7 linked regions of the Homo sapiens genome follow. The protein of the gene in region 5 interacts with the protein of the main gene of each other region in a pairwise test. Each region holds a gene or a part of one and is shown on either strand. Other genes may lie near its edges.

Region 1 (4,464 bases), on a different chromosome or scaffold from region 5:
TCTTGTTGCCAAGTGTCTGGCATATAGTAAGTGCTCAATAAATATTTGTTGAATAAACTAGCTAAGAAAAAGAGACAAACTTATGTCTCAGTCCTTTTTTAAAACAGAAGCACATTTGAGAAATAATGATAGACATTTAAAAAATTACACACAGACATATCTTGCTTATTTAACTAAGCTGTTATTATTTGCAGCCCTCTATTATCACATAGTATTCTGCATGCAATCATATACAATTAGGAAGATGTGAGAAAACATACCAAAAATGCTATATTTAAAATATTCATGTGCATGAGGTTATAAATATGACAAATATGTAGGAATTGTAGAATCCTAATATTATGTCACTAAGAATAAAAACGAGCTCAGTTATTAAAACATTTGGGCCTCTGGAGCACCAATAAATGTCAATGTGCTTAGCAAAATTTGGAATCATGAGCAAAGTGTGGCAGTGCGTGTTCCATGTAACAGGCACTCAAAAATTATGCCCAGTGAAACTGCTAAGAGCAGTTCCACACATGATCATTTAAATTTGTTCTAATGAACCCGAGGAACTGATCTTTGAAGTGGCCCCTGGTGAGACTCCACTTGCTCTTAACAGCATCCTGAAAGGATTTATAGGGTGCAAAATGAGGACCTTGTTTAATTTATGGAAGTGGATTTGCACCTTCTCTATGTTAGGTGAAAAATAGCAATCCCCTGCTTCTCCCCCATAGACCTATATGACCCATTTAGAATGACTACAAAGCCAATGCCTGCTACGTTACAATGTTACTAAGGTCTGTATTTTATATTTCAGATGGATGGACCAATGTAAAGCAAAATTCAGCTTGTTGTAAAAAGATTTGTGGTGTGTGCCATAGGGACCCTTCTTTTGAACCAAAGTGCATATTCTGATAGTGCTTAGAAAGTACAGTAGCCACAGAACAAGAATGTTCATCATGTAAAATGTTATTCACTTTATAGCAATGAAAAAAATCTGGAAATTATCAATGAATGTATTCTATAGCCTTCGTAGATAATCAAGGACCTAGGTAAAACCATGGGTTAAGTTAACTGAACCTATGCCATGTTGATTCTAATACGCATATAGATAAAGCTGTGACTCCAGGTCTGGCCTACTATACTCTCTATGCCTCTCATGCCACTTAAGACATTCTACTCATGTTCCAGATATTTGTGTATTTATCTTTCTCACCGTCATCAGTTATTTTGAAGAGAGAAACCAGGTTTACATGACGTCTGCAGGCCTTGCAGAACCTAACAATGCACTTTGCTCAAAGTAGGCATACAACAAATATATTTATGAATGAATAACTTTATCAAATATTTTTATGCTTTGATAAAGCTTTAATGTGTGGTTTTAGCCAGGGTTTATGAAGGAGGATCATTGGGAATGGACTGTGAGGCATATCTTCCTAAGTCATCTTTGAATCATGTGAGGGGACAAATACTGCTTGTTTCTACGTGCAGAACAGCAGGAACATAACAGCTTGTATAGTTTGAATGGAAAAAGTCACATAGCTGAGCCATGGATGCTTGTCATTTCTACAAATCACAAAAACACAGGGATATGAACTTGGAACAATTTGTGGTTCTTCATTAAATCTTAATAGCCTCGGATGAGTGCAAGAGATGAAAAAAAATCAATGGAATAAGAACTACTAAAGTAAAAGACAAATTAAGCACCAGTGTGAACATAGTGACCCTTTCAAAAGACATGAGGCCACCTGTTAAGTTTTGCATGCAATTTTACAATCTAGTCCAAACTATTGGATTCCACTTTATACTGACAACTCTTTTCCAGGGGCATTGTGAATCTCTCAGTTAAGGTAGAGTTCTTATCACCTGGGAACTGCATGGTGGTTTGTGTGACTCACTCTGTTCTGACCCATCTGACTGGGAGGAAAGCTTTTAAGGCACTTCTTTAGATTGGATGGATTACATTATATATCATTTCTTTATCCCCAATATATATTTTTAGCTCCTCACTTACTATGTCCTAGGTACTGTGCAGGAAATCAAAGATGAAATGGAAATAATGTAGTAAGAGAAAAATGGCAGATGAATGAATAAACTAAAATACGATTAATGCTATTATAGAAGCATAAGGAAAATATATGAAATTGTCAACTTGACAGCCTATAGTCCTATCCCACTTATTCTACTTTAATTTTCTCCATTGCACTTACCATCCTAAACTATATATTTATTTGCTTATTAGTATTTTACCCTCAACTAGAATATGAACTCTAGGTCTGTCTTGTTCTTTAATGTATCCTTTTGATGATGCCTGGCACATGGTAGGTTCTTAGTAAATATTCCTTGGAAGAGTGAATGAATAAGAGAATTGAAAATTCTATGGGACTTAAAGGTGGGAGTGGTTTTCTTTGCCCAAGAGTCAGAAAATGTTTCACATGGAATGATCTCTGTGCTGGCTCTTGAATGATGAGGAGGAATTAACCAGGCCAAAAAGGGAGAAATGCTAGAACTGGTAAAAGAAGTTGAGTATGCAAACTCATTGAGGCATGGAGGGATAAGAAATATTTGGGGATTGTTATCTCTGATGGGCACATGGCTAGACCCTGAAGGTATGCGGAGATGCTGGGAAGGTGCAAGTGGTCTGTTATGATAGGCTCAGAAGCTCGAGCTTTTTTCCCTCAAGGCAGTGTGAACCACCACAGTCTTATGAACAGCTAATGACCAGAGCAGATGCAGCTCTTTAAGATAATGAAGAGTTGAAGTCGTGCTTTCCATTTTTCCAGAGATGCTTTCTCATAATGCAAGGTGGTTAAAATCCAGAATGTGATAACAGACTTTCGGAAATGAAGAACATGTCATCAGTAAAGAAACAGAAAAATCACCTTCCATGACGACAAGCCGTGTAGACTGTACCTTCCTCACTGCCAACCACGAAGTTATTGACGTCTCCCGTTGGGAAAGCCATTCCGGTAACAGCGACAGGCTTGGACTTATTGTACACCAGCTCCATGCTCTCCTACCAAAACACGGTGTGGTTACATTTCCATCTGTCAACTCCTTGCCATGCCAAAGATAGCACGGAAAAATCATTTGGCTAAATCATGTGTTTGCTTTTCACACAGCGTTACAAAAGACCCCGGCTGTGCCAGAAACCATGCTTTACTGCCCCTGACATTCATGCTTCTGTGGATCTCTGGTTTCAAGCCGGCTGGATTTCATCAGCATGTGCTGCTGCTTCTTAAGTCAGGCAAAGATGACAGGTGAGAATTTTGAAACTAATGGTGCAGAAACTAAAGATAATAATGGTTACACTTGTCAGCTCCAAGCTTTAATAAAACACACAATACCCTTGTATTTACAAACATTTTCAAAATCAATTGTTTGTGAGAATACACATGTATTAATATCAGATGTACTAAGCAAATTTGTCAAAGCAGGAGTATGTGTCCTCCATGGACTAAAACCAGAAAGTTGTCACTCAGGTCATAAAAACCAGATTTCAACAGGGACTAGATTTCATGCAGGGCAGCCATTGGGTGAATAGGCTATAAGCCTGAAAAGAACAATATTTAAATACGTCTTTAAAATAGCAAATGGGAGTCTTTATTTTATAATATGATTTTTTAAAATTGAGAATTAAAGATTCCTAATCTTAAAAGATATACTGCTGAGTTAAGTTTAATGACAGAAAAGAATAATCAATTATAACTAATATCCCTGAGTATTTCTGGCTATTTACATCAAATAGCCTATTTTGTGCATCTGAAATAATTTTTAAAAAATCATTCTGAGGTATCATATCATTATAGTTGCTTGAGAGTTTAGTCTTTCTTGTGCAAATAAACTATTTCAGCCAAGGAGTCCATTAAATTGAAAGTGCAAGCTAACAGTCTAAGCAACACAGACTGATTCTGATCCTGTGATGTGTTCAAAGTTTGTGATATCCACACATAGGGTGCACATCAGCAACTGGGATAAAGGAGAGGATGCTGTGACTATGTCATACAGATAACTGGATCATCCAATGATCTGCTTCATCACTAAAATTAGCAGCAAGGAAGGAAAAGTCCCTTTACCCATTTGGGAGAGAGAAAGACCAGGCCAACTGTTGGATGCCCCTATTCCTCCCTGCCATCCATGGAAGCCATGTCACGAAATCCTCCATCTTTGTATAGACACAGGAGTCTGTGAGCATGCTAAAACTAATACAAACGGACTTAGAGCCACCATATTACTGGTTTTAACCTAAATAAATATGTGTAATGAGCAAAATGGGCAATTAAAAATTCCTAAATAGTGGGCTTGCTCTTATGTCTGTTTATAATCTTCAGGCTTTTAAAAGAAAACAAAACATTGCTGAGAATTTTAAGACAAAGCCATAAAATACCAATCCCTCCAGCCCTCTATAATGTTAAAGATCAGCGAAAATAGTGGAACTTCAATTGTAAGCAGCTTATTAGCACTCTCTCCTTTTTCTCCCTA
Region 2 (4,464 bases), on a different chromosome or scaffold from region 5:
GGCCTGGGGAAACCAGTGCTCCCCACAGACCTCCCTCACTCACCCTTTCCCCTCCAGCCTTTTCACCTCTGGGGCTGGTGAGGGGCCGGGAGGAGAGAGCCCGTATGTCAGACAACAAACCGTCTCTGCTAACCCCCAGCAGCCACAGGCAGAGGAAGAAGAGGACAACTGGAAATCCTAGCGGGCGCCGCCATGCCTTCCTCCCCTAAACCCAGACTCTAGCCATGGCCCGGACGTGGACACAGCCAGAATGGGATCCTCAGCCCTGCTGCCCTGGAAGGGGCGGGGATGAAACTGTCCCAGGTCTGTGTGGAGACCACCTTCGGGGAGCGGGAGGCTGGCTTGAGGCCACGCAGCTGGGGTGGGGGCTTCCGTCTGCCTGTGCTCCATCGGAGGATGGCTCCACCCAGCCCCTGCACCAGTGCGCTCCTCGATTCCCTAAAGAGGCTTCCAGAGAAAACAGCAGCACATATCAATAAAAAACTCAGCAGAAACCAACAGCACACTTTTATTTAAGGACCTATAGCTGTGCAGGATGCAAACATCTGGGCATCAGTGACTTTCCTCCTGCCCCCGTTTGTCCCTGATGGTGGCAGAAGATCCCAGCTGACCACAGCCCCTTTCTCTGGGGTCAGAGGGAGAAGACAGGCGCAGTCAGCAGGGGCAGCTGTTGCAGGTGGGAGGGATATTTTCCCACAGGAACAAAGGTCTCCGTGATGACACGGGGTCTCTATAGTCATGTTGAGAGCCTAACGGCCCTTGGCATAATTGCTGGTGTTGGGGTAGAAGGTGTCTTGGAGTTTGCTCAAGTGGTTGAGAGGGAGGGAGGTGCCATAGACTTGGAGGAACTGGCACGAAGCCAAGGATACAAATCCAGGCAGGGCTGTGGGACAGGATAGGGAGCAGGGCCTTCTACTGAAGGAGTGACTCAGGAAGGAGGAGGGGAAGGTGACAAGCCCCTGGGCAGGAGCCCTGTGGCCATGGATCATTTTAAATTGAGACCAGAGAGTGAGCAGTCCAGGGCAGCTATAACCTTGGCTAGAAAGGGCAGAGGCAGATGGGCCTGCTCCATCTCGCCTCTTAAGAAGGTGGGCAGGACGGAGATGCCACAGTGGATGCCACAGCTGCCACAGCCTCCTGCGGAGACCAGGAAGGAAGCCTGGCTCTCAGCCATGCAGGATGGAAAGAAAGATTCTATTCCAGGAGGGGAGCTGCCCTGGAACGCCCCAAGGACAGCCAGGACCCACTGTTCATTCAGGATTCCCCCATTTTCTCCTACGGGAGCTAACGCCTGTGCCTGGGTCCTGGCAGCACTCTGGACTCCACACTCTCCTCCTGGGTTTCACCTTTGTAACAGGATCCCCGCAGACCACGCCCACGACAAACACTGTCTCCAGCGGGCAGGACAAAGGAAGGGCACGGCGCCAGGCAGTGGTGTGGTTGCCCATCAGGAAGAGGCCGACTTCTCCCGGTGAAACTGGGCAGACAGAAGGCAGTGAGAAATGTGATCTCGGGGTGGGGAGGCTCTCAGAAAGAAAAAGGTAGGACTGACCTTCTGCACAGCAGCAATGGCGGGGCCAAAGGTAGCTTTGACCTCCACACGGGCTCGGATCCAGGCCGGCAGCTTGGCCAGGACAGGGGGCCGGGCATATCGCTGGTCCAGGAGCACTACGCTGGCAAAATCCTTCTGGTGCCTGATGGCCCTGCCTGCATAGGAACAGAGGCTGGGGCTCCGAGCAACACCTGCCTCCCCCCTACAGCACATTCCCACGGCGACCCCCTCCCCTTCCTCAGACTTATATAGGAAACAGGGCAGGCAACCCCTCTTTCCTGTTCTCCCTTTCTCCAGCCCCCATCTGTCCACCCAGCTGGAGGCAGCCAGGCTCACCTATGGACTGGTTGACGGCCTTCATGCACAGGTTCTCCACCAGAGCCTTCCCTGGGGGTGCCTGGCCGGGGGCTCTGGGCTGGGAGTGAAGGGGAAGACCCATCAGGACTGTTCCCTGCCTGCAGCTCCCCCTGGGAAAAGACCCTGCCAGGCTTTGGAGCCAGACCAGGAGGCTTCGTGGCCAATGCCAGCAGCAGGGGTCCAGGTGACATCACAGGGAAGATCAAGAGGGTGTGGAGGGGCATCCAAGCTTCCGGAGGGGGCAGGAGACGCCAGCGCAGCGGGGAAGGCCTGGCTGTATCAGCCCTGGGGGTGATGCCACTCCCACCCACTGCCTACTCTCCTGTCACCCTCTGTGACACTGGGGTCACTCACGAGGGTTTGATCCAAGTAGGCCATCTTCTCCTGCAGCTCTGCAGACCTGATGTTGGGGAAGGGCATGCCCACCATCACCACACACCTGGGCGGGGGAGACAAGAGCCCAGCAGGTGGACGTCAGGACCTCCCGGGTCATCACCCACGTCACCAGCTGCTCCGTTCTACCCCTTCCCTCAGCCTCTCCGACTGTGATCAAAACTCAGCCTCTCTCCACTCTGTACCTACCACCTGGAGAGGGCTTGTTCGGCTGAGAGATCCCGTCTAGGCCAATTGACTGGGTCCTGATACAGCAATGGGTAGCCTAAAATCCAACTGCTCTCCCAGGACCAAACCCAGAGCTGCTGAGCCCCTCCCTCCAGCTGGCTGGTCTGAGCAGTCGCAGCCCAGCTGTGGGCTCTAATGGCAGCAGAGAGCAGGCAGGGGCCCAGCTGCTGGGAGTGAGGGCCGGCCATGTATCACGGCCCAGGAGACGAGCAGAACCACTACTTACCGGCCTAGGTTGTCAGAGAAGTTGATCCCTTCACTCATCTTTCCTCCAACCACAGAGAGGAGCAGGGCCCCTGTCACCTGGCCTCTCTCCTGGCCACAGGCCTGTAGGAGAAACCCAGACGCTGAGTTGCTGAGCCAAAACTTGGATGACACCCACAACGTTTCCAGCTGCCACCCCCACACGATCTCAGACCCAAGCCCAGCATGACGCCCGCACCTGGATGCACCTGGAATATGCCAGCAGCACCTGCTCCACCTGGTGTGCGCTCTTAGGTTCCTGGAATATCTGAGAAAGACAGAGGACATTTCCCAGAGACAGGTTCAGGGTGCCAGGTCTCGAGTCTGCTCGTGGCCTTGTGTTTTCTGGCCAGGGGACTGGAGAACCTCACAGCCAGGGACTTTGGGGGAAATCCTCTGTAGTCAGGGACTGGGAGCGGTGGGGATGAGGAGCCAGAAGCCTGTCCTGACCCGATGAGCACGAGAGCTCCCAGGAGGACTCAGTGGCACTGTCCTCACAAGTGGGAAGGCTGCCGACAGGCCACTCACCTTCTTCCTGGCAGCCAGACGGCCCAGCAGGCCACCCTTCTCCCAGTGGGCATGGACCTGGCGCAGGTACTCGTAGGAGGGGAAGAAACAGACCACCCCTCCAGGAACCACACCGCACAGGTTACAGAGAATGCGACCCACCTCGTCCATCTAAGGAAGGAAAGGAGGGAGGGAGGGAGCCCCCATGGAGCAACCCCTCAGCCACCCACAAACCGCGTCTTCACCTTGAGACTCAAAACTGAGGAGAGACCCTCGGCAGGACTACAGCCAAGGAAGAGGACTTGGCTCCCCTGGGTGGGAACCACGGGGTGGTAGGTGCCACCTCCCACCAAACACACCCAGCCGCTGCTGCTGACTGCGCCTTTCTGACACATGTCACAGCACTAGCGTCCCTAGGGGGCCTCCCTATTGCCCTGGCACTGAGTCCTCCCTTCTTCTGTCCAGGGTCCTGATGGGCACCACAACGACAATCAGGGGCTGCACACCCCAGGCACACCACAGGAGATGCCCCCAAGCCCCACATCCCTACCCCCGGCAGGGGCAGATATAACCAAAGGGCAAGAGAGCCAAAGGGAACTAGCAGCTTTCTCCTGTGTGAGGCGTCCTCAGAGGATGCCTGGAGGTTTTATGAATACATATTTCGCAGCCTAAGGCGTGAGGGGCGGGGAAGCTCAGACCTTCCTCCATAAGCATCTAGATCGACGCCGCTCATTCTGTGTGGCTCTAAGCGGGTGTCCCTGTGCAATTTCCCCAACACTGAAAACACTCAGGGTGGGCCAGAGCGCCCCTGCCCCAGAAAACCCTTTGCTGCCTGAGGCCAGGCTGTGGTGCGGCGAGCTGGCTGGGACTGACCATCTGAGGCAGCTCTCTTTTCTGGAACGTGAATTCCAGCGGCTGGTTGGAGATCCCGCTGCAGATGACGAGGGGCAGGATGTTGTCTGGAGGGATCACGTGACCTGGTAAGAGCCAGGGAGGGGCCGAAAACTGGAGATGCAGGTGTGCTGCAAGACACTGCAGAGAGGGCATTTCCCTGCCCCATCATCCAGCACAGGAACAGCGACTGACAGCGCTCACCCGCCCACCATCACCAGTCACACTGGGCAGCAGGCAGCAGGGAGCAAAGCAGGAGAGCCTGGGCGAGCGCACGAAGGGTGAGGCTCCCA
Region 3 (4,464 bases), on a different chromosome or scaffold from region 5:
CATTACTTAGGCATTTCTAAAGCAAATATTCCCATTCTCTAACGCCATTCATTTTCAAAAAGCTCTCAAGTCTTTCAACATTTTAAAAGAAGATAAAAATTTGATTTTCCAAGGTAGGGAATTAAGTAGCCTCTAATTTATTCTGTTCATTCTACCTCACACATATACACTCCAGTCAAATGTCCTGTAAACCATTCTGCATAGAGTAGAACAGACACACAATGCTTCATGAAGGTGGAGACTTTAATCATCTACAAAGCCCTCAGACCTGTTTTACTTTATATGTTTAATCATACAGATGCCATCTACAGTATTTTGTAGTTAGTAAGCAGCAATAAAGTTTATTCTGTACTACTTTAGCATATTAACTATTACTTTTAAGTTGAAATAGAAAAATTATATCACTGTCTTTTCATCTTGAAGCAATAACAATGAACTCATAACTCAAATCTGTTTACCAGCTTAAGAGAAGCATTTAAAATCATATAGGCTTTTTCTATGCTTTATTAGAAAGATTTATGGAGGGGGAAAAAATGGTAGAATTATTCCAAGGCATGTTCAGGAACAACAACAACAAAAAGAATTTGTAACTGCAATTCCAGCGTTTCATAAATGTCCTCTATTTCCATTTAAAAACTCTCTAAAATTAACATAATTAAAGCAGCTAATAAAACACAATCCCTGCAACTTTTATATATAAGGAAAGTCCTCATACAGTATCAGTAGACCATGGCTTATAAATAAAATATACTGTATTTGTTATCAAATATAGAAACAACAGTTCCAGATTTATGTTTTTTGAAAAAATTAATTTATTTTAAGTTAAGGATCTCTACGTAAATTTATTTTGGTATCAAACAACTGCAATTAGTGATGGGGGGATAAAAGCATCCCTAATTGTGGAAGGATGGTAATTTATTTACAAAAACTATACAAAATTAGATTAATTATAACAACAACTTATCAAAGGTTCCTGAAATTAATTTTGCTTTTGAAAAAGTATCAAAAGTCTTCAGATCCAGAATGATAGCATTTTATTATTTCTGATTCATGGAATTATAGCACATCAGATCTTTAAGCAACTACATCAGATAAAATCCTAGATAATAAAATATTCTTCATTTCCTGACAGCTTGGAATGTAAATGAAAACTTGTTCCATTTTTATTAAAGAAAAAACCTAGAATAATGCATCCAATGGTATCAAATACCTGTTAGAATGGCGTGTCTGCTATAATTAAACATGGGCAATTAGTTCTACATAGTTAAAAATTGCCTTAAATTAATTCCTTCCTTTAATAAAAAAGTTTTTCTCAGTCATTTCAGATCTCTGTTATTCGGTTTTAACTAGGAAATTTGCATTTACATAAGGAATCTTCAAAATAGTATATATTTAAAAAGTGCATATAAGCAAAACTAAATTTCTCAAATTAAATAATTTAATATTGTATTGTAAAATACAAGTAGCCTTAAGAGAAACATGCTTCGTCAATCTTTTGCTTTTAGGTTTGGTGCCCAAACATTTAAAAATAAAGAAAAAAATACCACGACTCTTTGCTAATGGCTTTTAAGATTTGCAGACACAGCTAAATACTCATCTAACAAAGTATCCAGGCTATCCAACTATATTGCCATGAATTCATAAGACAGTAACACACATTTATAATATAAAAGTAGTCAAAAAAATAAAAAGAAACAGCCACAGGTAATTTAGGGCTAAAATGAGTCCTAATAAGGGTTACATGAGAAATAACATATAAGACCCCAAATAAATTTTAGATACAAAATTAAATGATGTGGCTTTGTTCAAACATACCTAAAATTCAAAATCAAGTTAAATACCTAGGCTGGCTTTTTTATATCACCAGCTTTCATTAGGGCTTTAATCGCTCTTGCCCTCATCTCAAGTTCTAGCAGCTCCAGTTGCTGTGCAGAAGGTTGAACATCTTCTGGTGGAGGAACAGCCAGGGTGGCTGCTTTGGGTTCGTTTGGGCTAGACTCTGCCAGTCCTAGAATCTCATTCACACTTTTCTCAATGTCTTTCTCCAGGTCATCTATCTGACCAGCTTCACTTTGGACTGTATTTTCTGGTGCCTCGGGAGCAGCTGCTTCTTCGTTGCATGGGCCTTCTATGTCGCTGTCATAAGCATCTGCATTTATACTGAGTACATCACTATCTTCCCCTTTTCCTGTAACCAAAAAAGGAGAAAGATCCATGTAACCTAAATACCATGGGTCACAATTTCCTTACTGTTTATAATTTAAAAACTGCTTTGATCCCACCTCCCACTATGGAGTCCCAAACACATTCCATAATCCCCATGCCACCCTCTTTTCCCCTGACTCCTCAACCTTCAAAGCAGATCTAATGTAATGTAAATTCAAATGTATTTTTCATTCTGATTTAGTAGAACATGGGAACATTAAGAAATTTCTTCCATCATATGCAGTACCCATGATCTATTTTCCTAATTAAAATGTCATAACATTTTTATCACAGTAAAGCTTCTGCACTACAAAATGAAAGCTGACATTGGAAATCCTCTGGATACAGTATGGCTTACTATTCAAGCAGTAAAATTTCATTCTAGAAGGTGTTTAAATACTTTGCTTTATAAACTACAAAAAAGAAAAAGTATCATCAGCAAGCAGGACAACATATGCATTGCAATTATCCCAATCTTTTCATACGCTTTTTCAAACACTTTGTTCCAAATCAATAAATTAAAGAAGAATGCCTAAGGCCATTTTCTAAGGTAAAATTTGTTTTAATGACGAGGATTTTAATTAACAAAGTTAGTTCACCATAATTTTAAAAAATGCATTTGTTATAAAACTTCTATAACTGATGCTAACAACATAAATAAACACAGATTATGGTTCTCGACCACCTTGTTCTTGGCATTGAATACTACTCAATTCCAGGCATCATTTGCAACTTTGAATACTCACTTATATTCCTAATTAATTTATCTTTTAAATATTGAATATGTTTTTTGTGTGTTTTTCTTGCATTTTCTTTTTTTTCTTTTTATTTTATTATTATACTTTAAGTTTTAGGGTACATGTGCACAATGTGCAGGTTAGTTACATATGTATACATGTGCCATGCTGGTGTGCTGCACCCATGAATATGTTTTTTTTTTTAAAAAGTCATGATCCCCAAAATGTTAGCTTTCCCTAATATAAGAAAGCTTTGATAGCGCTTTCCTTACAGTAGGGAAAGCTTCTTTACAAAACATAGATTGACAGATGGTAAATTCTGATAACAGACTGTACAGGAAGGACATAAACAATTATACTCCATTGGTTTTATAATCAATGATGATTTACTGACCTTCAGTGATCCTCCTACATGCTTATAATTGAAAAACCACCCCCATTCCAAAATTAAAGTGGAAAATAAAACAAAAAATTATTTTTGTGTCCATAAATAGAACTTGTAAAAATAAGATTATCATTTTATTTGATGGCAAAGAACATTTTATATATGTCCGCAAAGCAACAAATATTTCCAAATAGCATAAAAAACTACAGAAAATTGAATAAAACCTTTCAAGAAACAATATTTTATACAAGTATTCTAACTTGAGACTAAAATAGATTTAAGAAAATAAGGCCAGGTGCAGTGGCTCATGCCTGTAATCCCAGCACTTTGGGAGGCTGAGGTGGGCAGATCACCTGGGGTCAGGAGTTTGAGACCAGCCTGACCAACATGGAGAAATCCCATCTCTACTAAAAATACAAAATTGGCCAGGCGTAGGGGCACATGCCTGTAATCCCAGCTACTCGGGAGGCTGAGGCAAGAGAATCACTTGAACCTGGGAGGCGGAGGTTGTGGTGAGCCAAGATCGTGCCATTGCACTCCAGCCTGGGCAATAAGGGTGAAACTCCGTCTCAAAAAAAAAAGAAAATAAGTGCTAAGTTGTTCACAGCCTCAAAAAATTAACTTTAGTGTCTCCGAGGCTTTACCTAAAATTTAAAGTGTATAGTCACTGATTCTGAATAAGAAACTACAGGCTGTATAAAATATTTTAAAATACAAATTTTTGAAAAATGTGACTTGTTTTTCAGACTAGGGGTTGTTGCGAGATAATGAATGAAGAGCTGAATAATATAATGAGGGGGTGGAGAAGAGGTAAACGGTAGTTGATTCAGAGGCTTGATCAGACTCAGGTTCAATTTTCTGGTAAGAATATTTAGAAGTGACGTTGTGTACTTCCAGCACATAATATATAATTGCTTTTCTTTTTGTGATCATGTCAGTATCCATTGAGATTGGGTATTGTCTACAGTGGCTGATGAGAATACTCTTGATTCCCTGAACCTAACCATTGTAATGCTTTTGTCTGTAATCTAGTTTTTTTCTGTGGCAACTTTCAGGAACTTTTTTTATTCTTGAATTCTATTTCACAGGATGTGTCTTAGGTTTGATGTTCTACACGTGGCAAGCCCTTTCAGGGTG
Region 4 (4,464 bases), on a different chromosome or scaffold from region 5:
TTTTGTAGAGACAAAGTTTCACCATGTTTGCCAGGCTGGTCTTGAATTCCTGACCTCAGGTCACCCATCCGCCTTGGCCTCCCAAAGTGCTGGGATTACAGGCATGAGCCACCGCGCCTGGCCTAAAGTTATTTTTAAATAAAATAAATCCAGACATAGTGGCTCATGCCTGTAATCCCAACACTTTGGGATACCAAGGTGGGTAGATCACTTCAGCTGAGAAGTTCAAGACCAGCCTGGGCAACATGGCAAAACTCTGTCTCTATAAAAAATACAAAAATTAGCTAGGTGTGATGGTGCATGCCTATGGTCCCAGCTACTCAGGTGGCTGAGGCAGGAGGATCATTTGAGCCCGAGGGGGTCAAGGCTGCAGTGAGCAGAGATTGCGCCACTGCACTCCAACCTGGATGACAGAGCAAGACCTTTCCTCAAAAAATTTAAATTTAAATTAAAAAAAATTAATTTTACAGGTGCATCTCAAACTGTGTTCTATTAAACTAGAATAGTAGTATCTATCCCATGAGTATCTCATGAGAAAGAAACAGGTATTCTTTGGGGTAAGGGAGGAAAATGAAAAACAAAAACCCTCTATAGTATAAAATGTTTCTGAGGCTTTAAAGAGCTCATGTGCATTATAAACGTATTTCACCCCACACTTAAAATACTTGCAGCATATTAGGAAGCCATAAATACAGTTCGGGAAACACTGACTTGGGTAGGCAGGTAGGTAGACAGGTAGTCAGTAGGCGGGCAGAGTCACAGAAAATAAAAGGAGAATAAGACAAATGTAATAAAGTGATACCACCTAAAAAAAGGATCATAACTGACTACGAGTTATGACTATGAAGTCTCTTGAAGGAAAATAAGGTGTTAGAATAAGCTATCAAAATCAACAATAGCCGCCAGGCGCAGTGGCTCACGCCTAGAATCCACTTGTGTGGATATACTTCCCCAGCATAGCCAGGTCCTGCCAGAGAACATTTCCAGTGCCTCCCCAGGCAGTTCACACAGACAGACATATGCCCACATGCTCATCTGCTCACACTCCCCCTGAACTGTATTCACCCCACACACACTGAGTGCCTTCATCACTGTACTCCCTTGCTTCCCACCCCAGAAGCAGGAAGAAGGTCAAGAATCAGACCTTTGGCTGGGCATGGTGGCTCACACCTGTAATCCTAGGACTTTGGGTGGCCAAGGTAGGAGGATCACTTGAGCCTAGGACTTCAAGACCAACCTGGGCAACATGACAAGACTTGATTTCTACAAAAAAAAATTAGCCAGGTGTAGTGGTACACACCTCTAGTCCCAGTCCCAGCTACTCGGGAGGCCAAGGAGGGAGGATAACTTGAGCCCAGGAGTTCAAGGCTGCAGTGAGCTATGCTCATGCCACTGCACTCCAGCCTGAACAACAGAGCGAGACCCTCTCTCAAAAAAGAATCAGACTTCTGGGAGCCTAGGGAACATATACAGGTGCCAATGAATGTGTCCGTGCATGCTCTGCTAAGTGTGTGCATGGCTGCGTGAGCTAGAATGGGTTTTTGTAGGAGGAGCTCTGCCCTGCTGCTGCAGGACTGTCTGAAGATGCTGCACAGCCATGCTTCCTCACAAGCTCTCTTTTAAGGTTAGTCCAGGCCAACCACATTAATATTGTCCCCTTTGGGGTGGTATATTTATTGCAACACACAGCCTGGACATTCATATACAGGGCCATGGCACTAGGGTAAGGCGCCACAAACTCCTCCTGCTGAGGAGGCAACAAGGTATCTGGTCGCTAAAGCTGGGTGGGACCCATATCCCTGACAGTATTCCAGTATGTATGAGGCACTGCAGACCTGGGGTTTTTGTTCTTAGGTGAGGCCTGGCTCGTACGGCTTAAATTTCTGTTCTACTTTTCCCCAACTTGAGATGACTCGGAAGACTTTCTGTTCCTTGCAATGAAAAACAGCCTAACCAAAGTCCTTAAAAGTCATGTATATAACTACTTTAAAATTAAGATAAAACCCATGGCTTCGACTTCTGATGCAAATACCCAAGACAAATAGGGTATGAGGATTCCTCAAATACCGAGTGGTTTATGAATTAGAGGCCACATCATTTTATAACTAACCATATAAGGAAAATTTTCACAGTTAAATATATTGCTCACACTTGCTGACATACTGGCAAATTTTACCAGTTAAAAATATGCCGTGTGCAGTGGCTCACGCCTGTAATCCCGGCCCTTTAGGAAGCCAAGGCAGGTGGATCACTTGAGGTTAGGAGTTCAAGACCAGCCTGGCCAACATGGTAAAACCCTGTCTCTTCTAAAAATACAAAAATTAGCCAGGTGTGGTGGCACATGTCTGTAATCCCAGCTACTCGGGAGACTGAGGCAGGAAAATCGCTTGAACCTGGGAAGCAAAGTTGCAGTGAGCCGAGATCGTGCCATCGCACTCCAGCCTGGGTGACAGAGCAAGACTCCATCTCGAAAAATAATAATAATAATAATTTTACACTGGCACAGACCACTTTACCAAAAAAAGCATCTTATATTAACTGTACTCTCTGACCTAGTTACCTAATGTACAGACACACAGTACATCTTATATTACTTGGCACACCAACAAGTTAGCTATACAAATCACAATTCCAACCCAAACTTGAAGCTAGTAAATATATTTAGTATTTGAACTTGAGTTGTGTTCAAATGTTCATTAAATTGGCCTATGCAATCTTAACAATGTTCTAACACATATTTAAAATGCTCATTTCTCCTCCATTATTTAAAAAAAAAACACACACACACACAAACTATAACTCTGTTAGACAAGAAACCAAACATAAGCCAAAAGGCTCGGCAAAATCACACTTAAATAGGACAAGGAGAGCTTCAACTTCAGAATAATTATCAGGATACCAATCACACAAATATGATTCAACAATCACTTAAATATCATTCAAGAGGAATTCCTGGTAGTAAAAAAAGAAATCCCGTAATTAACTAGAGCACAGCATTATCAGAAACTGATTATGTAAAACAATAGCTTTTCTTTCAGGATGTGTGTATGTGTGTGTAACGAAGTTCACAGCTAGGTTACACTAATGACTCACTTAAACATTTGAATTTTCTGCTATCTTAACCTTTAAATCGACTGCAAAAGTAGCTGCCAAAAGTAGCTTAGTAGGAAAGCATACTACTCTCAAAAGAACTTGGTATGTCCAACTTATTTTACTACTTAAATTTTTTTTGATCACTGATATTTGAAACTAATTTTTAAGTAATGAATGCTTACTAAATCCATGATAATATTCAGCATATACAGGTTTTTAGAAGGGCACAGATTATATTCTTATATGTGTGTTTTTACAGCACCTGGAACATTTCTGTTCAGTATCTGTTCAGTATTACACATAATTATTGCAGGACCTGACAGTGTTTACTATCCTATTTTTTCCTTTTTTTTTTTTTTTTTTTAGACAGAGTCTCGCTGTGTCACCCAGGATGGAGTACAGTGGTGCCAATCTCAGCTCCCTGCAACCTCTGCCTCTGAGTTCAAGCAATTATCGTGCCTCAGCCCCCCAAGTAGCTGGGATTACAGCCACGCGCCAAAGTGCCAGGCTAATTTTTGTATTTTTAGTAGAGACGAGGTTTCACCATGTTGGCCAGGCTGGTCTCGAACTCCTGACCTCAAGTGGTCCACTCGCCTTGGCCTCCCAAAGTGCTGGGATTACAGGCGTGAGCCACCGCACTAGGCCTTACTGTCCTATTTTTTAAAAGCTTTTTCGACTGACCAGTAAATCAAAGTTGAAAAGGTAACTGGTACATTTTATTTCTTGATTTGGATTACCTTTTTGTTGTGAATTGGTTCTCAGTTCTAGTTTCCTTGTGACAAAACACTGATGGAGAATATATTGAACTGAAATCCCCTGAATCCATTCCCACTGAGAAAATAATACATTTGAACTGTTCACATTTCATTGTAAAAGATACACAACTTTAGAGATTACTCTTGAAGTTTTGAAAGTAAAGTGAATCAGAAGTCACATTCCTAGAAGCAGTCAGTCTGGAACAGATGTTTATCCTACACACCCAGTCCCCTTTACCACTGCAAACCTCTCTAATAGTTCATTACATTAGAACAACTGAGATGGGCCAGGATTTGTGAAAATAAAAATCCTTTGAGACATTTATTAAGCAGATTATCTCTGAAACTGCACCTTAGTTTACAAGCCTTTGGGCAACAATTTGACCCTCTTCTATGATAATTTGTGTACACACTCATTTCACATTTTCTCTGGCTTCCAATTTTAAATTCTTTATCTAATCCATACAATAAGTCACCCTATCAGACTTTATAAGACTACTGAAAACAACACTACTGCAATGCAAGGCCACTACATTTGCAAAATTGCCGATTTTAGTGAGATTTCCCTCCTTCAACTCCTCCTCTACCCCTCTACCTGGTTTAAATCCCAAGAAAA
Region 5 (3,500 bases):
TAAATTAGGTATTTCCTGAAATCTGATTTTTATATCATATAATATGGAAGATTTTCAAATATTCAGAATGTTTATTTGATTCTCAGATTTATTCAGACTCTTTGTTTTCTCCTTCTATTACTATTTCTTGCCCTTTTGGCTATTTCATTGGTTTGTGTCACTCAACAACCAGAAACGAAAAGGAAAAAAGGCATAAATGGTAAGCAGTTCACATCAATAAAAATACCCGCTTTCACACAGTAAAACCATTTTACTTTATCTCCACGGCCTGCCATCTGTATCAGTGCCCCACCTTCTGACCCCATTATTTCCTGTGCACTGATATTTCTACCAATCGCCGCCAATCACCTCCCCTCCATGACTCTAGCCCTATGCAGTCAAGTGTGCCAGGGTCTGGAGAACCTGAGTCAAAGCAACAGTTCTGGGCCCTGAACTTACAGACCACATGCTCCTGAACTGGGAACATAAAAAAGCAGTTATCACCAACCAAACTGGGGAGAAGAGTATAATGACAGAAATCACAGGAAACCTGGGTCATAGATGCTCAACATATGGAAATCCTGGGAAATAAAAAAGGAAGGGGAAGGAAAAAGAGACACCCCAGAGGCCTTAGAGCCAAATTATATTGTGATTATGAGAACAAGGGCTGGGCACAGTGGCTCATGCCTGTAATCCCAGCACTTTGGGAAGCTGAGGTGGGTGGATCATGAGGTCAGGAGATCAAGACCATCCTGGTCAATATGGTGAAACCCTGTCTCTACTAAAAATACAAAAATCAGCCAGGTGTGGTGGTGTGCGACTGTAGTCCCAGGTACTCAGGAGGCTGAGGCAGGAGAATCGTTTGAATCTGGGAGGCGGAGGTTGCAGTGAGCCAAGATCGCGCCACTGCACTCCAGCCTGGTCAACAGAGCAAGACTCCCTCTCAAAAAAAAAAAAAACAAGAAAAAGTCTTCTCTGCCTGAAAGGCTAATCTCTACTCCTTCCCCTGTTCCGCACCCTTGCTCCATGGCAGAAATTCCCCTTAAGACAAAGCTTATTCTGTAACAGAGCGGGGGAAAAATGGCTTTTTTTTTGAAGCTGCAAAAAATCTAGTAAACCTATTTGTCAACAATAACAGATTCAACTCCTTATACCTGTTTTATTAGGAAAAAGAGGGGAAGGCACCAAAGGACCCACTCTGCTACTTTCATAATCTGTCACAGGCTGATCACTATTAAATATTAATAAGTACCCATTCAACATATACTTCTTGGGCATCAGTTGTCCACACTAGTTGCTAGGGATATGAAGGTGAGCCATGCTGTCTCTGCTGTGCCTAATGAAGTCTGTATTTTCATCTAGTTTGGGACACACAAAACCTGTGGGCAGAGGTAATTCATATTCCAAGGAGGAAATGAAGAGCAGTAGGCAGCAAGAACAAAAGACAAGAAGATGTACATGACAGGATGTGGGTAAGGGCCCTCAGCTGCTTTGGGTGGCACCCAGCACAAGCCATACCTCAGGCTCTATACCCCGCCTTAAGCTGTGGCCTGTCATTTCCTATGCCTTCATCCCACTGCTGAGGACCACTGAGAAGGTGCCTGAACAGATGCCATCGCTATGGCAAAATCTAGAGATCCTACAGCTTATTGCCATCATGGTCAAGGCAGAGGAACCCAAGACAACTCACCATGTGCCGGCGGAGTATCGTTTGGCTCTTCATATATTTTAAACAGAATTCACACATATAGAGACGTCCCAGCCGTGCATATTCTTCAGGATATGGAGAATGATACCAGGTATCAAGCTCATAGCGGCCAAAAGCAATTGTTTTAATCATGTTGCTTCCCTCTGTGATTTGGCCTTGCAGCCTTAACTTCTCCTATTGCCAAGAAATCAAAAGTCAAAGGAGGATCAGAATTTATTATCTTTGCTTTTAGACAGGGCACAGTGGCTCCTGTAATCCCAACACTTTGGGAGGCTGAGGCAGGCAGGTCACTTAAGGCCAGGAGTTCGAGACCAGCCTGGCCGAAATGGCAAAACCCCATCTCTACTAAAAATACAACAATTAGCAAGGTGTGGTGGCAAACAATTGTAATCCCAGCTACTTGGGAGGCTAAGGCAGAAGAATCGCCCAAGAGGCAGAGGCTGCGGTGAACCGAGATCGCACTACTGCACTCCAGCCTGGGAGACAGAGCGAAACTCCTTTTTAAAAAAATAAATATTATCTTTGTTTTTAAAAGTGTGTGTGCATGCCACCACGCTAGGCTATGAAAAAAATCAGACAGATTTGGCTTCTATCCATGAGAATTTACACTAAAGAGAGCTACATGAAAAATCACACAGGTGTACAGAAAACTTACTACCCATACTGCCCAGAGCACAGGTCTCAAAAGAGAGGTTTCTCTGCTACCTCCCACATTCTGGGCCTCACCAGAATGATACCTTGGAAACTTCATTTTTATCAGCCTAGACCAAACTGAATTATAAAGAAAATCATCACAGATACAAACTCCCCACCCTTATAAAGTATTCTAAAACTAAACAAAAAACTTGATTTAGAATCTGCCTTACTTATCTGCAGAAGCTTTTATAAAGCTATATGAATCTCCGTGAAATATATCCACAATGGTCACTTAGAAAAAAAAACAGGCCCTTTAAAAAATATTTTTGAAATGTGCATGATAATTCTAGAATCTAAACTCTAGAAGGCAGAAAATATTTCTGGGATGGGTGTAGTGGCATGCCTGTAGTCCCAGCTACTCAGGAGGCTGACGTGGGAGAATCGCTTGAGCACTGAAGGTCGAGGCTGCAGTGAGCCATGATGGCACCACTGCACTCCAGTTTGGGCAACAGGGCAAAACCCTGTCTCAGAAAAAAAAAAAATTCGGATATCCATCTCCATTCAGTGGCTCTGAGTTGGCTACAAAAGTATAATTTGTAAGCATAACCAGGTGTAAAGTTGTAAAAGGCTAGCCCAGGAAATGCTCCATGCCAGAATAGGATAGAGAAAACCAGCAGCAGTAACAGCCCATCCCAGCCAAGGGTAGCCAGCAAACCCTGCCTCTGCCAAGTTTTCAACAAGTCTAGTATTTGATACAATTTTTTTTTAATACAAGGGGGAAGGGGGTGAAGACGAGATTCACTTTAAAACTGAGCTTCCCTGAACACATTTAATCTGTTATATCAGAGGTAAACTCAATCACCAGAATTTTCTTCAAGCAAAGTTGTTAAAAATTCTGCCTAGGACAGCAACTCAGTATAAACTAGCTCTAAATAAATATCAGAATGGAAAACCAATGTATCAAACTTGGCTGTGTCAAAGATTAATTCTAAAACATCTGACAACAGCCTTTTCCATTATTCCTCTTCACTGTTATTTTCATTCTTAGTGCAGAGGAAACCTAGCAAAAGGGGAGTTCCTGTTGGGATTAAGAAAACAACAGAGATGAGTCTCTCCTAGGCTACAGGTTCTCAGAATTGCAAATTGCCCAGCTGAGACAAAGGGGCGCCTATGGTTT
Region 6 (4,464 bases), on a different chromosome or scaffold from region 5:
TTCTCCTGCCTCAGCCTCCTGAGTAGCTGGGATTACAGATGCCCACCACCAGGCCTGGCTAATTTTTTTGTATTTTTAGTAGATACAGGGTTTCACCATGTTGGCCAGGCTGGTCTTGAACTCCTGACCTTGTGATCCACCTGCCTCAGCCTCCCAAAGTGCTGGGATTACAGGCATGAGCCACCGCACCTGGCATAATTTTTGTATTTTTAATAGAGATGGGGTTTCACCATGCTGACCAGGCTGGTCTCAAACTCCTGACCTCAAGTGATCCACCTGCCTTGGCCTCCCAAAGTGCTGGGATTATAGGCGTGAGCCACCGTGCCCACCCAATATCAGTCATTTAAAATCTACAGTCTGGTTTACAGGAAATTAAGGATAAGGCTGGGTAATAAACCAAACGATACCGGGAGTAAACAACCAGGCAAAGTTGGAAAGCGGGTCATTGTGCAGGACAACTGGCAGTCTCTTTAACAAGCCAGCATCGTGAGGAAAAAGGGACCCCTTGGATTGTAATAAAGTAATGCTTATGGTATTATTTGGCTTATGTAATAAAGTAATGCTTATGGTATTATTTGGCTTATGTAATAAAGTAATGCTTATGGTATTATTATGGTAACTGTATTAAGGCAGTTACCTATCAATGATAATCCTTACCTGAACCAGTAATTACATTCGTGCCATAGAATACCTATAACTCTTATCATCTCTTCAACATTATTACATGAAACTATTTGTAAAGTCATGCTTTCCATTGTTAACTTGCAGATAACCAGATGCAACGTGAAGATCTAGACTGGACCCTGGTTTGATGAACCAGCTGTAAAAACACATTTCTGGAACAACTGGAGAAACCGGAGTATGCCCTGGACTGGATATTAAATAAAAATTTATTGACATGTAAAGATGGCAATTATTAACAACAACAAAAAACAGATTATAAAACATTTCATACAACACGATTGTATTTTGGCAAGCAAACACACACACACACACATACTCTCACACAGGAAACGACCTGGAAGAATATTTGGTGCTTTTATTTTTTAGATTATTTGTGTTTCTGAAATTTCTACAATTAATAAATACTGCTTTAAAATAATCAATGGTTATTTGTAATTTTAAAAAATCAAGGATTTCCATTCAATGCTAGATGCCACAAGTGGGTGACATTCTAAGAAAAAATATTGGCGATATCTACATTGACTAGAAATTTTTATCTAGAACAGACTTTTTCAACTGAAGTTCCTCATCTGAATCTCAAAAACCAGCAAATATGGCCAGGCACGGTGGCTCACGCCTGAATCCCAGCACTTTGGGAGGCCAAGGCAGGTGGATCACTTGAGGTCAGGAGTTCGAGACCAGCCTGGCCAACATGGCGAAACTCCATCTCTACCAAAAATATGATAAAATTAGCCAGGCATTGTAGTGCACACATGTAGTCCCAGCTACCCGGAAAGCTGAGGCAGGAGAATCACTTGAACCCCAGAGAGGGAGGTTGCAGTGAGGTAAGATCGCGCCACTGCACTCCACCCTGGGCGACAGAGCAAGACTCCACCTCAAAAAAAGAAAAACAAAAACAAAAACAAAAAAACAGCAAATAATTTGAGTGTTTTCTGAACTTTGCTGAGAACAGTAGGTAAATAGTCCCATGCTACAGGCTTAGAGGTTAATTTGTTATGTATATAATCCATGCCCTAGGGAATGTATAAGACATACCCATATGCAGTAGGGCTTAATTATCCCTAGGAACTAAACTAAAATATGCAAGGATCTCCTGCTAAGCAACATGAAAAAGAAAAAAGCAGAAAATCTGGTAAAGAACATGAATAAGCAATTCACAGGAAGGGAAACAAAAAAACACTAGTGAGTATATGAAAAGATGCTGAACCTCATTAGTAATCAGAGGCATGCAAATGAAAATGAGATCACGCTACACTCATTGGATTGGCAAAATTAGAAAGCTGGATGATGCCATGTCTTGATGAGGACATGCAGAAATGTAATCTCTTATGCACTGCTCATTATGAGGATAAAGTATTATAACCATTCGGGAGAGCAATTAGATGATATTTACTAAAACGCCGTTTGCAGGTGTCCTGTTATCCAGCAATTCTACTCCCAGCTACAATGACAGGAGACTGGCACAGAATCAGAAGGGAGCATGTACCAGGATGCTCATGGTGACACGGTTTGTAGGGGCAGGAACTGGAAGGCAATCTAGGTCTCCAACCTCAGGGGAATGTATGAACAAAATATGGTGAATGAACACCGCAGATTTCTCTGCAGCTGTTAGAAGCAAAGAACTAGATGTACTTGGAGCAGCATGAATAGATCTTGAAAAAAAGTGCTGAATTAAAAAAACACAATGCAACAGAAACTGATTCACAGCTTCAATGCCATTTATGGACATTTAAAATGCACACATATGCAGAACAATGCTTTAGCTTTTCGAGCATATGTATCAAAACATTAAAATTGGATGGGTGCCCCTGGGAAAAAGGAAAGTAGGCAGGGGACTGGGAATGAAGGGAAAGAAATAAAACTAAAAGACAAAAGGTTTGCATAGACCAATATTGATGAAGTGCCACACACTGAGGAGTGTGCTGAGCTGCGTGAGGTGCAGAGGGAACCTGGAAAGGAGAGAGCAGGAGTATAGAAAAGTACAGCTCTTGGGAGGCTGAAGGTCAGATAGTCAGGTAGCCTGGGGTCAAATCTGAGCTCTGCTGCTTCCCAGCTCTTTCACCTTGGACACGTCTTCCAAGCTCCCTCGCGTTTCTTTTTACGTCAAACAAGGATACAAGATGTATACACAAGCAGATAGCAGAATTGCTCCTGACACACAGTGGGTACATGATGACATTAGTAAATTTAAAACTACAGGCCGGGTTTTAAAACTTTAGTTTTAACATTAGTAAATTTAAAACTACAGGCCGGTGGCTCACGCCTGTAATCCCAGCACTTTGGGGGGCCAAGGCGGATGGATCACGTGAGGTCAGGAGTTCGACACCAGCCTAACAAACATGGTGAAACCCCGTCTCTACTAAAAATACAAAAAAGTAGCAAAGCGTGGTAGCAGGCGCCTGTAATTCTAGCTACTTGGGAGGCTGAGGCAGGAGAATTGCTTGAACCTGGGAGGCAGAGGTTGCGGTGAGCCAAGATCACGCCATTGCACTCCAGCCTGGGCGACAGAGAGACTCTGTCTCAAAACAAAACAAAAATGCTACAGAGCAGGAATGCACTTCCAAGATCTAGTACAATGAATGTTTCTCAAATGCAAGTGGTAATTTATTAATGGGTCATGAAATAAGTAATGGGTCCCAAACAGCATTAAAAAGAAAGATTATCAGAGTACATTTCACTAAAAGTATCTTTTTATAGAACTGTTATTTCAGTTATATATAATGAGTACTAAAATGCATTTTTTCCCTATGGCAGGCAATCAAAAAGTTTGAAAAACATGGATATTGTCCAAAGGAGTTCTACACCTTTGGGCTTCAAGAACCAGTAAGTATTCCCTGAGACAAAAGTTGTTCAGGGAGGCAACCTTTTAATCTATAAAGGGCATTCAAAAAGAAACTTTTATAATCTTCTCTTACTATTGTAACATAAAAGAAAGGACATTTTTAACATTGTAAAAATAGAACAGAATAACAGGCTTTATGTAAAACTCACTACTTTGTACTTATTTTTCTCCCTTCCCTGTCTTTCGGAACCCGAGGACAGAATCCCAGAGGTAGGAATGGACTCACTGAAGGTCACTGAGTCAGCTGTGACAGAGGTGACACAGAACCCTTATGTCCTGGCTTCACTTTCCAAGCTCTGCTCCTCAGAACCCTAAGGGGTCCACAAAAGTGGAGCCTAGCAGGTGGGGTCTCTAGAATCCCCAACCCTGTTTTACTGGGAGTGGCCCTGCTTCTGTGAGATTTCATTTGAATAAAGAATTTCACTGTTTAAAAAAAAAAAAGAATTAGAAAGCTCCTGGGGGGCGGAAGCCATGGGAGAATGCTGCCTCCCAGGATAGGGCCAGATCGCAGAGGTTATTATATTTCAATTTAAATTTAGATGTTTTTCCCTAGTGACATGAGGGAGCTATTTAGGATTTCTAAGCAAGAGAGAGAATAGATCGGGGTTGTGCTGAAAGATAATTACTCAGGTGCGAGTGTAACAGCTGGACTGGCTGCATAGGAACAGTGGGAAGTAGAGAGCAGCTATTTAACCATTGCAAAGGTCCTGGCATGAGGCTGGGGTGGGGGTGCTGCCTGAGGCGGCAGGGATGCAGAAGATGGCACCTCAAATTCTCTGGGGTTATGGCCAGCCAAAGCCAGGCTCTCCAAGCCATACCCCATATCTCCTTTTTTCTGCTCTAATACCTGCTTGGGCAGCTCTCCCAGGAACATAGGCATGGGGACTCCGAAGGCCCTCACCTGCAGCGCCAGCTGGCAGTCCTCAATCAGGCCCTGC
Region 7 (4,464 bases), on a different chromosome or scaffold from region 5:
TTTGTTATATAGGTAGTTTGCATGTTGTGGGGGTTTGGTGTACAGATTATTTCATCACACAGGTAATAAGCATAGTAACTGATAAGTAGTTTTTTGATCCTAACTCTCTTCTCACCCTCTACCCTAAGGTAGGCCTCATGTCTGTTGTTCCCATCTTTGTGTCCATATGCACTAGCACAGTGTTTAGCTCCCACTCCAACTGAGAACATGAAGCATTTGGTTTTCTGTTCCTGTATTAGTTCGCTTAGGATAATGGCCTCCAGGTTCACTCGTGATTGCAAATGACATGATCTTGTTCTTTTTATGGCTGCATATAGTATTCCATGGTGTATATGCACCATATTTTCTTTATCCAGTTTACCATTGATGGGCATTTCGATTGATTCCTTGTCTTTGCTATTGTGAACAGTGCTGTGATGAACATACGCATACATGTGTCTTTATGGTAGCATGTTTTATATTCCTTTGGGTATATATCCAATAATAAGATTGTTTTAAGTTCTTTGAAAAATTGTCGCACTGCTTTCACAATGGCTGAAACTAAATTACATTGTCACCAGCATTGTATAAGTGTTCTTTTTCCACAACCTTGCCAGAATCTATTATTTTTTGACTTTTTAATAATAGCCATTCTAACTGGTATGAGATGATATCCTGTTGTGGTTTTGATTTGCATTTCTCTAATGATGAGTGATTTTAGGTTTAGCATTTAGGCTGAGCATTTTTTCATATGCTTGTCACCTACATGTATGTCTTCTTTTGAAAAGTGTCTATTGTGTCCTTTGCCTACTTTTTTTTTTTTTTTTTTTTTTTTTTTTTTTTTGAGACAGAATCTCACTCTGTAACCCAGGCTGGAGTGCAGTGACAAGATCTTGGCTCACTGCAACCTTTGCCTCCCGGGTTCAAGCAATTCTTGAGCGTCAGCCTCCCAAGTAGCTGGCATTACAGGCGTGCACCACCACGCCTGGGTAATTTTTGTATTTTTGGTAAAGATGGGGTTTTGCCATGTTGGCCAGGCGAGTCTTGAACTCCTGACCACCTGCCTTGGCCTCCCAAAGTGTGCCACCATGCCTAGCTAATTTTTGTATTTCTAGTAGAGATGAGGTTTCGCCATGTTGGCCAGGCCCAGTTTTAGAATATTTCTATCACTCTCAAAAACGCTTTTGAGTCTGTTAACCAGTTTTGCTTGAGCCAGAAGAGCAGCAAACCACAGCAGGTTTGCCTGAACTATGCTTTAACCAGGCAATATTGAGAGCCCGGCAAAATGTGTCTGGATAACTGGCTTCGGTGGTCCACTTTTTTTTTTTTTTTTGAGATGGAGTCTTGCTCTCTTGCCCAGGCTGGAGTGCAATGGAATGATCGCGGCTCACTGCAACCTCTGCCTCCCAGGTTCAAGTGATTCTTCTGCCTCAGCCTCCCAAGCAGCTGGGATTACAGGCACCCACCATCATGCCCGGCTCATTTTTGTACTTTTGTAGAGACAGGGTGTTTCACCATGTTGCCCAGGCTGGCCTCGAACTCCCGACCTCAGGTGATCTGCCTGCAGATGTTGTCCTTTTTATTTTTATTTTTTTGAGACGGAGTCGCTCTGTTGCCCAGGCTGGAGTGCAATGGTGTGATCTCAACTCACTGCAACTTCTGCCTCCCGGGTTCAAGCGATTCTCCTGTCTCAGCCTCCTTCTGAGTAGCTGGGATTACAGGCGCCCCCCACCATGCCCGGCTAATTTTTGTATTTTTAGTAGAGGCAGGGTTTCACCATGTTGGCCAGGCTGGTCTCAAACGCCTAACCTCGTGATCCACCCACCTCGGGCTCCAGGCGTGAGCCACTGTGTCCGGCCTAGTGCTCCACTTTTTTAGGCAAGATTTCTCCTTTTCCCTTCCTTTAAATCTCTACTGGCTAACTTGTCATTCTGGATAGTTTTAGCAGCCTGCTAAGCATTTCATCCCATCTTAGAGAAATGGAATAAATTATTAATTCAAATTTGGTTAATCTAGAAAATTGTCTCAGGGAGTTACTATGACTCAAATAAGTCTACATTCAATAGGTGACAAATTATTCTGCTAGTGGAATATGGCAAAGAAAAAAATCAAGATTATAACAGGAACAAAGTTAAACTAGATATGAGTTAGAGAAAAGACTTACCTCAGAAAAAAACCCACTATATTTTGATGATGGGCTTTCTGTCTGTGAAGAACCAGAATCACTGGAGTTAACCAAATATGTTCGACTATCATGGTGTAATTTTTCAGGCAGGTGGCCTGCACAAGCCAGTTCATTTTCTTTATTTGCCATGTCACAGCCCCCACTTCCAGGGGACTGTTTTTTTCTGTAACAAGGATTTGGAAAGGGATGATGAACTTTCTTTCTGCGATAGATCACTTTACGAAGTTTATCTGGGCTTTTCACAGTTTGTCCAACTGTTCTGTAAAAAGAATTTATTTTCTTAAATGAAAAAGAACCATATGAAATCCTTTAAAAGTTTTTAAACAGAGAATTAATAGGCTATATTTGGTGATTGTAATCCACTAAAATTAGAAATAAATAGAATTTTAAAAATCTTAATTCTGAGTTGAAGAGAAAAGTAAAAGGGAAATTACAAATTATCTGGAAGACAATGTAAAGGATGACATTTTATGCCAAATAAAAATGAAGACAGACATAATAACCAGAATGCTTTTAAAAATGAAATATTAAAGGCCATTCTGGGAGTAAGAAGACCACAACATTTTCTAGAAACCTGATCTTTTTCTAACAAAGTGGCAAATAAGACTGCAAGTGTGAATATTTTAAAATTTAATTAAGCTGAAGTATATTGATTTATTTGAGTAAGAACACGATAGAGCAAGCCTCATCGTTTAATACAGTGGTTCTCAAACGTTTTAGTGTCACGATGCTTTGCTCTCTTAAAAATAATTAATGACTCAAAAATTTTTTTTTTTTTTGAGATGCAGTCTCTCTCTGTTGCCAGGCTAGTGTGCAGTGGCACAATCTCAGCTCACTGCAACCTCCACCTCCCAGGTTCAAGTGATTCTCTTGCCTCAGCCTCCTGAGTAGCTGGGACTACAGTCGCGCGCCACCATGCTGAACTAACTTTTGTATTTTTAGTAGAGACAGGGTTTCACCCTGTTGGCAAGGATGATCTTGATCTCTTGACCTCATGATCCACCCACCTTGGCCTCCTAAAGTGCTGGGAATACAGGTGTGAGCCATGGCCAAAATAATTTTTATGTGAATAGTATCTATTGATATTTACTGTGTAAAAACTAAAACAAAATTTAAATCATTTGTTAATTCATTCAAAAAAAGACTAATTACATATTAACATGGAATATCTTACCCAAAACCCATATTTTCTAAAATAATTTTTTAAAAAGTGAGAAGAATGGTACTGTTTTACATTTTTATATATCTCTAATATCTGGTTTAACAAAAGACAGCTGGGTTCTCATTTCTGCTTCTCCATTCAATCTACTGTGATATCAAATGGCATATAGCTTCTTGAAAAATTATATTGTACCCTCAAACAAGAGAATGAAAATGAAGACAGTCAATGTCTTAGTATTGCTATGGAAGTAATTCTGACTTCACAAATTCCATGAATGGTCTTTAGGGACCCGCAGGTCCTCAAATCACACTTTGAAAACCAGTCGTTTTGTAGAAAGTGCCTTTAGAAGTTAGGCAGATCTGAGAATGAATGTCATTCTTACCACTTTTCTAGCTATATGATTCTGAACAAATCATTTAACTTATCTGATCTTAAGTTTTCTCATCAACTGTTAGGGTTAATGTTATCTATAGAGTAGGCTATAGAGTAGGACTGTTGTAAGGAGCAGAGACAATATTGATGTGTTTATTAGTGCAGATACTGGCATAAAGAAGCTGTTTGACAATAAGTTAATTATTATTATGATAAAAGAATGCTTATTTTTCCCTTATTGTCATCCTTACCCAGCTTTCATATTTGTTGTTCCCCACAAACTTTAAAGAAACTCTTACCTATTTATGTAAGCAGCCAACTGTTTTGGAGATTTCTTAACCTGAAAAATGAAAGTAGATAGTTGATGTTAGAAACAAATGCTTGGTGCCGCAAAGAAGAATCAGCACTCCGGCAAAAAGCTTTCTCAGCAAGGCAATTTACTTCTGCAGAAGGGTGCCAATCGTGCCTGGAGTGGTCGCAAGAGCATACCGGGCATGGGAGGAGAAGGGGTTCTTATCCCTAATGCAGCTAGTCCCTACTACTGTGTCATTCCCCTATTGGCTAGGGTTGGACCGCACAGTCTAAACTAATTCTGATAGGCTATCTGGGTATGAGGCAGAGTGGCGGGGTGAGCAGTTTAGGCAGGAAGGATGGTTACAGTGCAGGTGACTAAGGATGACTAAGGACAGAGCAGGTGACTAAGGATGACTAAGGACTCTAAATATGTGAGTATAAAGGCTAGAAGGGGGTTGTTTACTGAAACTAG

Evidence for each region.
Region 1: the proteins of KAT7 (region 5) and DYNC1I1 interact in a two-hybrid assay, tested with the Homo sapiens proteins (one large-scale study listed by BioGRID and IntAct).
Region 2: the proteins of KAT7 (region 5) and DDX11 interact in a two-hybrid assay, tested with the Homo sapiens proteins (one large-scale study listed by BioGRID and IntAct).
Region 3: the proteins of KAT7 (region 5) and CAAP1 interact in a two-hybrid assay, tested with the Homo sapiens proteins (one large-scale study listed by BioGRID and IntAct).
Region 4: the proteins of KAT7 (region 5) and RERE interact in a two-hybrid assay, tested with the Homo sapiens proteins (one large-scale study listed by IntAct).
Region 6: the proteins of KAT7 (region 5) and KCTD13 interact in a two-hybrid assay, tested with the Homo sapiens proteins (one large-scale study listed by BioGRID and IntAct).
Region 7: the proteins of KAT7 (region 5) and KATNBL1 interact in a two-hybrid assay, tested with the Homo sapiens proteins (one large-scale study listed by BioGRID and IntAct).

What each region holds. Positions count from the first base shown.
Region 1 is NC_000007.14:96,034,153-96,038,616, reverse strand, and holds part of DYNC1I1 (cytoplasmic dynein 1 intermediate chain 1), read right to left. Parts: intron 2,999-4,464; coding exon 2,865-2,998; intron 1-2,864. UniProt on the Homo sapiens protein: Acts as one of several non-catalytic accessory components of the cytoplasmic dynein 1 complex that are thought to be involved in linking dynein to cargos and to adapter proteins that regulate dynein function.
Region 2 is NC_000012.12:31,100,820-31,105,283, reverse strand, and holds the end of DDX11 (ATP-dependent DNA helicase DDX11), read right to left. Parts: intron 4,313-4,464; coding exon of another isoform or gene 4,258-4,312; coding exon 4,154-4,257; intron 3,452-4,153; coding exon 3,302-3,451; intron 3,042-3,301; coding exon 2,973-3,041; intron 2,858-2,972; coding exon 2,757-2,857; intron 2,349-2,756; coding exon 2,264-2,348; intron 1,968-2,263; coding exon 1,889-1,967; intron 1,708-1,888; coding exon 1,553-1,707; coding exon of another isoform or gene 1,478-1,552; coding exon 1,448-1,477; coding exon of another isoform or gene 1,251-1,447; 3' UTR 485-1,250; downstream 1-484. UniProt on the Homo sapiens protein: DNA-dependent ATPase and ATP-dependent DNA helicase that participates in various functions in genomic stability, including DNA replication, DNA repair and heterochromatin organization as well as in ribosomal RNA synthesis.
Region 3 is NC_000009.12:26,840,460-26,844,923, forward strand, and holds the end of CAAP1 (caspase activity and apoptosis inhibitor 1), read right to left. Parts: intron 2,189-4,464; coding exon 1,842-2,188; 3' UTR 226-1,841; downstream 1-225. UniProt on the Homo sapiens protein: Anti-apoptotic protein that modulates a caspase-10 dependent mitochondrial caspase-3/9 feedback amplification loop.
Region 4 is NC_000001.11:8,810,177-8,814,640, forward strand, and holds part of RERE (arginine-glutamic acid dipeptide repeats protein), read right to left. Parts: intron 1-4,464. UniProt on the Homo sapiens protein: Plays a role as a transcriptional repressor during development. May play a role in the control of cell survival. Overexpression of RERE recruits BAX to the nucleus particularly to POD and triggers caspase-3 activation, leading to cell death.
Region 5 is NC_000017.11:49,816,181-49,819,680, reverse strand, and holds part of KAT7 (histone acetyltransferase KAT7), read right to left. Parts: intron 1,862-3,500; coding exon 1,670-1,861; intron 1-1,669. UniProt on the Homo sapiens protein: Catalytic subunit of histone acetyltransferase HBO1 complexes, which specifically mediate acetylation of histone H3 at 'Lys-14' (H3K14ac), thereby regulating various processes, such as gene transcription, protein ubiquitination, immune regulation, stem cell pluripotent and self-renewal maintenance and embryonic development.
Region 6 is NC_000016.10:29,918,763-29,923,226, forward strand, and holds part of KCTD13 (BTB/POZ domain-containing adapter for CUL3-mediated RhoA degradation protein 1), read right to left. Parts: coding exon 4,428-4,464; coding exon of another isoform or gene 4,374-4,427; intron 3,200-4,373; coding exon of another isoform or gene 3,092-3,199; exon of another isoform or gene 769-3,091; intron 1-768. UniProt on the Homo sapiens protein: Substrate-specific adapter of a BCR (BTB-CUL3-RBX1) E3 ubiquitin-protein ligase complex required for synaptic transmission.
Region 7 is NC_000015.10:34,150,647-34,155,110, forward strand, and holds part of KATNBL1 (KATNB1-like protein 1), read right to left. Parts: intron 4,039-4,464; coding exon 3,998-4,038; intron 2,424-3,997; coding exon 2,144-2,423; intron 1-2,143.